Homo sapiens: one gene and its partner. The protein of the gene in region 2 interacts with the protein of the main gene of each other region in a biochemical or structural test. Each region holds a gene or a part of one and is shown on either strand. Other genes may lie near its edges. The genes, in order: CDC7 and DTD1.

What was found.
Region 1: of the proteins of DTD1 (region 2) and CDC7, one has a biochemical effect on the other in vitro, tested with the Homo sapiens proteins (one study listed by BioGRID).

The regions. Positions count from the first base shown.
Region 1 is NC_000001.11:91,521,045-91,524,865, reverse strand, and holds part of CDC7 (cell division cycle 7-related protein kinase), read right to left. Parts: intron 826-3,821; coding exon 431-825; 3' UTR 1-430. UniProt on the Homo sapiens protein: Kinase involved in initiation of DNA replication. Phosphorylates critical substrates that regulate the G1/S phase transition and initiation of DNA replication, such as MCM proteins and CLASPIN.
Region 2 is NC_000020.11:18,741,441-18,745,261, forward strand, and holds part of DTD1 (D-aminoacyl-tRNA deacylase 1), read left to right. Parts: intron 1-2,659; coding exon 2,660-2,812; 3' UTR 2,813-2,831; intron 2,832-3,821. UniProt on the Homo sapiens protein: Possible ATPase involved in DNA replication, may facilitate loading of CDC45 onto pre-replication complexes. An aminoacyl-tRNA editing enzyme that deacylates mischarged D-aminoacyl-tRNAs.

The DNA of each region.
Region 1 (3,821 bases), on a different chromosome or scaffold from region 2:
CCAGCACCAGGTTGAGTTTCCCCAAACTATACCTAGCTCATAACTCTAAAAGAATCTACAAATTAAGTCTTTTGATTCATTTAATCCTCATCACATCTGTTAATTTTAATTAATTAAAACTAAAACTGCTCCTTTTTCTGTATATGTCAGTGAAAGGTAATTAGGGAAGCTAAAAATCTGACCTAATAGGAACCCACCTAAAATCTACTTAGGTAGGTTTAACTCAAAGAAGATCATGTTGTTAGTCCCAAGAACTATCCCAGGCATTTTAAGTATTCTTAATCTATATTTTAGAATGTGCCACCAAACACTAAAATGTTAAAATAAATTATTAATCCTGCTCTGGTCTCTAAACAAGAACTTGTGGCTATTACAAAGTATTCTTTTTTATTCTACCTCATAACAGTAAACATTAAATGAAGATCCATTATCACAAGCTCATATCTTTAAAAAATGGATGCAACAAAGCTTCTTCTGCTGTTATTCTTGAAGCTGGATTTAGATCTAGAAGTTTATCAAGCAGGTCATAAGCTTCATCAGGTACCTCATTCCAGCCTTCTAAATTGGTATTATACTCATCAAAACAATGCTCACAGCTATTACTATCCCCCTTTTTAAATGAATTCCCTGAGTATTGTCCTGGAGGTGTTTGAACGAGGCAAGAAGCTTTATGGTCAGTCTTCTCTGAAATAGCTGGTTGATGAGAAGCATGCCCTTGTATATCACTTGTTAACTTGGGAGTGCTAGAATCCATACCCCTGAGTCTCTCACAGAGTTTTCTCAAGTCTTGTGCTGGAACTTCTTTGCTACATAATATTGATTTCCCTAAAAGCAAAAGAAGAAAAAACAAAAACAGAAAAAAACATTTTATTATTTGAATATATCAGAAGCCTCTCTCATGAGAAACATGAAAGTTCAAACATATGCTTTATAGACATGGACACACACACACACACACACACACACACACAGTATGAGATAGAGCACCACATGCTATATTTAAGTTGTATTTGAATTGCATAGTGGGAGATAAAGTGGGAGATAGTAAGTACAAAGCAGTGACTTACTAAGCTATGCCAGGCACTCACTTGACTCTGCCAATTTCTCAAGCTTCATCTTACCCTTCTATAATCTTTAACTAGCTGCAGCTCCCACGCCCCCACTCTACTTCCTTTCCATGCTTCTATGTCTTTGACTACATGACTCCTGTCTTTGCCTAGGATGCCCTGCACCCCTTGTGTGCCCAGGACACTCTCACTGACATCACCACTCAGATCAAGAATCACCTCTGAGGCTTGACACCCTCAGAGAGAACTGATCAATTTCAGTTTCTACTGTATCTTGAGAGTTCTACTATTACTTTTGCTATCCTATATATGTCTGTCCCACCTAGTAGACTGAGCTCTTTGAAGGCAGGAACTGTCTTATTTATCTTTGAACCCCCCAAACCCAGCCTATGCCTGGTACAGATTAGGTAGTCAGTTAATGTCTGTTGGACTAGACAAAAAGGCATTATTCTTTTCAACAACTGTTCAAATGACACATACATCCTTAGAGATGCTGTTCTTGACCAACCTATCCTAAATAAGCCTCTTCCCTCCCCTTTTCCTTTTATCTCAGTACCACTCATTTCTCATAGTATTTATTTATGTTCTCTCCCTCACTAGAATTTAAGCTCTGTGAAAGCAGAGACTCGCAATAGTACTTGGCACACATAAAGCCCCAATAAATGTTTCTGAATGAACAAATAAACAAACTAGATCTGTTTTTAAAAATATAAATGTATTTGAAATAACTTCCTGATGGGTTTATTATCAGATGTGCAAAAAAAAGTTAATCACACAAATGGCAATCATGTATTATTTTTGCCTTACATTTCCTTATTAAACAGAAATATACTAAATGTACGAAACAACAAGTACCACAACATTTAGATGCCTTTCTGAGAATGTAGATTGTCAACAAAGTCATTAATCTGACTGTGGATGATAAAAAGTTACCTTTACATATTCTGAACTAACTACTGGACTGGTGTACTAAGCCAGGGAAAAAAATGGGGGAGGGAAAGGGAGGAAACAAACAATTACTGAAGACCAAATTCTTTGAGAGTACAATATGCCAATGCTTTTTTACTTTTAAACTGATTCTATCATTCCTATTCTCTCTAGAAAATTATAGCCAGGGGGGAATATTCATATAGTTTTATTCCTTTATTAGCTTGTTCTGAAGTCATAAAATAACTAATAGTATATGTTATAGCATGTCCCCAAGTTATACAATATGCTTTTTTTTATATGACCAAAAAGAGGGTTCATTTACAATATTCAGGAAAAATAACTTCAAGTAACACTATCAGTCAACATATTTTATTACAGACTACTATGTGTCAGGAATTTGTTTCAGCTCAAGACTTTTCTTTTTAATTTATTCAACACAATTCACTGAGTACTTAATGACAACCCACAATGGAGCCAGGTTTAAGGGTTGAGGACAGATAAGAGAAGTAAAGGTGCTCTCACTGCTAATCTCAGCCAAGTCATTTCTTTAGGTTACAAAGGGGAACACAGTTGTGTTTGTTGAAATTTTGAGGCTTTTATACTCAGTCCAAAGTTATAGTAAGATCAAGACTAAAATAACTACAGATGTCATACTAATACAACTGAGACAAGTCCTATGGCATTATTTTTATTATTTGTTTTTTTGAGACAGAGTCTTGCTCTGTCGTCAGGCTGGAGTGCAGTGGTGCAATCTTGGCTCACTGCAACCTCCATCTCCCAGGTTCAGCTGGTTCTCCTGCCTCAGCCTCCCGAGTAGCTGGGACTACAAGTGCATGCTACCATGCCCAACTAATTTTTGTGTTTTTAATAGAGATGGGGTTTCACCACGTTGGCCAGGATGGTCTCGGTCTCCTGACCTCATGATCTGCCCACCTAAGCCTCTCAAAGTGCTGGGATTACAGGTGTGAGTCACCACGGCTGGCCCTATTTTTTTTTTAATATGAGAAGTATTACAATGATAAATCTCTAAAAGCTCTTGCTTGCTATCATGGCACTTGATCTAGAGTATTTTTGGGTCAGATGTTGTATTTCCATTGTTGGCCCTGATTATAACTTGGATTACAATGGGGGAGATTCAAGCTCTTCAATAAAATATGTTGGTATTGGCTGATAAACTTCATGTTCATAAACCTCTCACGAAGTTATTCAATAGTAGATGAAAGTTTTCTCAGTTGAGAATAAACATACTTGTTATATTATTATGTAAGAATGCCATTTCTAAGATATCAATCTTGCTTTCCACTCATGGTCACTTTTTTTCCCTTGTATTATTTCATCCTATTATCTTCAAATAAAATTTTCTTACAATAAGTACAAGATAGTTACAAATCGTGGACTGACTTTACTGTAGAAACATATTTTGGCAAGCCTCTATTAAGATGAGGCTTTCTTCACAACCACCACTAAGTTTTTCTTGTAGATTAGACTATAGCACTAGTGCATAAGCAAGGGCAGTAATTTTTGCAGTGGTTCTTAAACACCCATAGTTTCTTAGTCAGAATCACTTGCTTTTTCAAACTAACAAGGCTGGAGCCTTCCTAAGTATCTTGTTTTTCTGAATCATATTTTCCAAGAATAGGCTGAGTGGGCAGGCATATGTATTTCTTAAAGATTCTCAGATAATTCTGACATGCAACTCTGGTTAAGACCCACTGATCCTGGGGTTGAGCACAAGACAGCCCAGCTACTCTTGAGGTAGGCTGGCTGAAACTTTGTCTCCTGAGGTGTTCTGTATTGTATGGTAGTAAGCTGAGTCAATCCCAC
Region 2 (3,821 bases):
ATTAGTAACTCTGCTCTAGATCTGGTTTTGTTCTTATAAAGTTGATGGTTACAGTTGAAGCCTGTATATATTCATTCCACTAAGATCCCATTATCCTCTTTCCCCTCCATGTTAACTAGTGTATTGAAGTTGGCGTGTATTCTTCCAGGCCATACTGTATTTGCATGAGCTCACTAGCTATGTAGAGTATTATTTTGTGTTAGTGGAATCCTACTGTATATAGCCTTCTGAAGCTAAATTTGTTTTGTATAACATGATTTTCAAGATTTATCTATTTTTTTTAATTAAAAAAAATTTTTTTTGAGACAGTCTTCCTCTGTCACCCAGGCTGGAGTGCAGTGACATGATCTCAACTTACTGTAACCTCTGCTTGCTGGGCTCAAGCGATCCTCCCGTCTCAGCCTCCCCAGTAGCTGGGACTACAGGCATGTGCCACCACGCCTGGCTAACCTTTGTATTTTTTTTTTTTTTTTTTTTTTGTAGAGACAGGGTCTCTCTATGTTGCCCAGGCTGGTCTCAAACTCCTGAGCCCAAGCAGTCGCCCACCTTGGTCTCCTAAAGTGCCGCTATTGCAGGCATGAGCCACCACCTCTGACCAAGACTTGGCTATTTTGATATATGTAGATCTACTGTACAATATTGCTTTAGGGGACCAGACCACATTACACGTATCTGTCCTCCTAATGTTGATGGACATTTGGGTTGTTTCTAGGTTTTTGCAAATACAAATGACACTACAGTCCATGTTCTCAGAAGCCCCCACTGTGCACACAAGTGGAAATTTATCCAGGGGAGTTTTCGGAGGAGAGTTGCTGAGTCAAAGGTGAAGTGATGTCTTCATTCACAAAATCTAATTAGTATATTAACCAAACTTAGCTGTATTCTACAGCTTTTCAGGTAAATGGGGAGTAGGAAAGAATAAGCCAGGGGTCCTCAACCCCCAGGCCAGGGACCGGTACTAATCCCTGTGGCCTGTTAGGAACTAGTCTGCACAGCAGGAGGTGAGCAGCCTATGAACGAGCATTATCACCTGAGCTCCGCCTCCTGTCAGATCAGCAGTGGCCTTAGATTCTCATAGGAGCGGGAACCCCATTGTGAACTGTGCATGCGGGGGATCTAGGTTGCAGGCTTCTTATGAGAATCTCACCAATGTCTGATGCTCTGAGATGGAACAGTTTCATCCTGAAACCATCCCCTCTTCTGTCCCCCATCTCACAGAAAAATTGTCTTCTATAAAACCGGTCCCTGGTGCCAAAAATGTTGGGGACCACTACTATAAGTCAATTATTAATAAATTTGATTTCCTGGACCCAATTGAGAGCTACTGGTTGGTTGTTCATCTCTCGAAGGGTTAACTCAAAGTCTGTTCATAGTGGAAGAAATGATCTGGCAGATTGGGGGAAGTGAATCCTCTTTGTGTCTTGGATGTGGGGCAGGGACCAGCAGGGAGAAGCCAGCCCTTCAATAAGTTTCCTTCTTTTTATGTAAACTAGAAAAAGTTCACAGACTTAGTCTGGGAGGGAGATAAAACTGGGTATTGCTGTCTCTTGTGTTTTTTGGTCTAAGAAAATTCCGTGGTTCAAAACTTGGCCGGTCTTCTCTGCTGGGTTTCTCAGCAGGCTTTCCTGTAGTGGCTGGGCTGCTGCTCAGTGTTAGATGATGGAAGCTTCTTTCAGCCATCTAGCTGATGCTTTCTTTGAAGAACTATTCAGGGAAGAAGTGGGCCCAGGTTCCATTCGAGTGAGACATCAGGGGCATGTCCCCTGCTGGCCTGGTGGGAGCCTAAGAAGGCTCTAGTGGCCAGTGTCCTGAGTGTTGCCACCACGCAGCCTGCAAGCAAGTCAGCCTTCAGTCTCAAATCAACTGGTAACTGAGACGGTGTTCAGTGTGCTTAATGCACTTTGTTTCACAGCCTTCTCTGTAATCTTCAGCAAAGAGTAATGTGTTTTGAACATTCTTTAGAAAACACGTGGTGTGGCATGGTGGCTCACACCTGTAATCACAACACTTTGGGAGGCCGAGGTGGGTGGGTTGCTTGAGCCCAGGAGTTCAAGAACAGCTTGGGCAACATGGTGAAACTCTGTTTCTACAGAAAAATTGGCATGCACCTGTAGTCACAGATACTTGAGAGGTTGAGGTGGGAGGATCACTTGAACCCAGGAGGTTGAGGCTGCAGTGAACTGTGACCGCACCACTGTACTTCAGCCTGGGCAACAGAGTGAGACCCTGTCTCAAAAAAAAAAAAAAAAAAAAGAAAAGAAAAGAAAAAAGAAAACAACAAGTAGAAGGTAACTTGATGAGAAAAAAAACTATCAAAGAAAAAAGTAAGAGATGAAAAGCCTTCATATATGGAGCTCTTCTAAGGCTGTTGAAGAAGGCTGTGGCATGACCGCTCCCTCATACTGTGTGCCAAGTTGAATTATGGTTGGGGAAAAGTCTGAGAGTGATTACTCCTATGACTAATGATTTGTTTCAGTGATTCAGGTGCCTGTTGGAAAAACATTCTGTGTATAATTTGGTATATCTGAACCACTGTGCTCTGCCAGGTTATCAGAAAAAAACTTTTCAATGGTTCCCACCTGGGAAGTCACTGGTGTGTGGGATACACAGGCATGTGTTTGTGTTTGTAAAATATTCTTTTTTATTTTTATTTAATCAGCTGTCAAAGCTCGAAAAACAGCAGCAGAGGAAAGAAAAGACCAGAGCTAAGGGACCTTCTGAATCAAGCAAGGAAAGAAACACTCCCCGAAAAGAAGACCGCAGTGCCAGCAGCGGGGCTGAGGGCGACGTGTCCTCTGAACGGGAGCCGTAGCTCAGGAGGCAGAATTCAGGTAGGAGTTTCCCTGCTTGGCTTCATCTTCCCACATTTTGGGGAAGCAGCAATGAATAGGAGGGAATAGCTGCTGAGGCTGAATTCATTCATTTCACAGCGTTCATCCATAGCTTCCTTAAATCTGCTGCCTTCCAGGATGGAGACAAAAGTTAGTGTGTTAGTCCGTTTTCACGCTGCTGATAAAGACATACCTGAGACTGAGTAATTTATAAAGATAAAGAAGTTTAATGGACTCGCAGTTCCACGTGGCTGGGGAGGCCTCACAATCATGGTTGAAGGCAAAAGGCATTTCTTACATGGCGGCAGGCAAGAGAGTATAAGGGTCAAGCACTCCAGCCTGGTGACAGAGCAAGACTCCATCTCAAAAAAAAAAAACAAAAAACAAGTGAAAGGGGTTTCCCCTTATAAAACCATCAGCTCTTGTGAGACTTGTTCACTACCAAGAGAACAGTATGGGGGAAACTGCCCCCATGATTCAGTTACCTCCCACCAGGCCCCTCATCTTGAATTGTAGTTCCCATAATTTCCACGTGTGTGTTCCTACGTGGGAATTATGGGAGCTACAATTCAAGATGAGATTTGGGTGGGGACACAGCCAAACCATATCAGTTAGCAAATAAGATTGTATTTTATTCATTGAGATGCAGGAGGGTGGCATACCACAGGCCTGGGGTGCCCACCTGGGGGTGGAACCTGTTTGTGCCACCTTCTCTGGCTGCCTGTGCCAGTCCACAGCTGCTGCTGTGATTGCCTGTGCAGAACACTCACTCACCGATACAGAATCCAGATGCAGATGCAGAGTCCACTTGCGCTCCTGCATCTCCCTTCCTGCTCTTAGCCACTCTAGCAAAGGGCACTGCCATCTCAGCAGCCTACTTTCATTGCCACCTGCCCCGTGTTCTGAAATCCTTCACAGTGCCCCGTGTGGCACTGTGAGTTTACTTTTCCTAAAATGGCATTTTATTCTTATTGTGGCTCACTGTAGCAC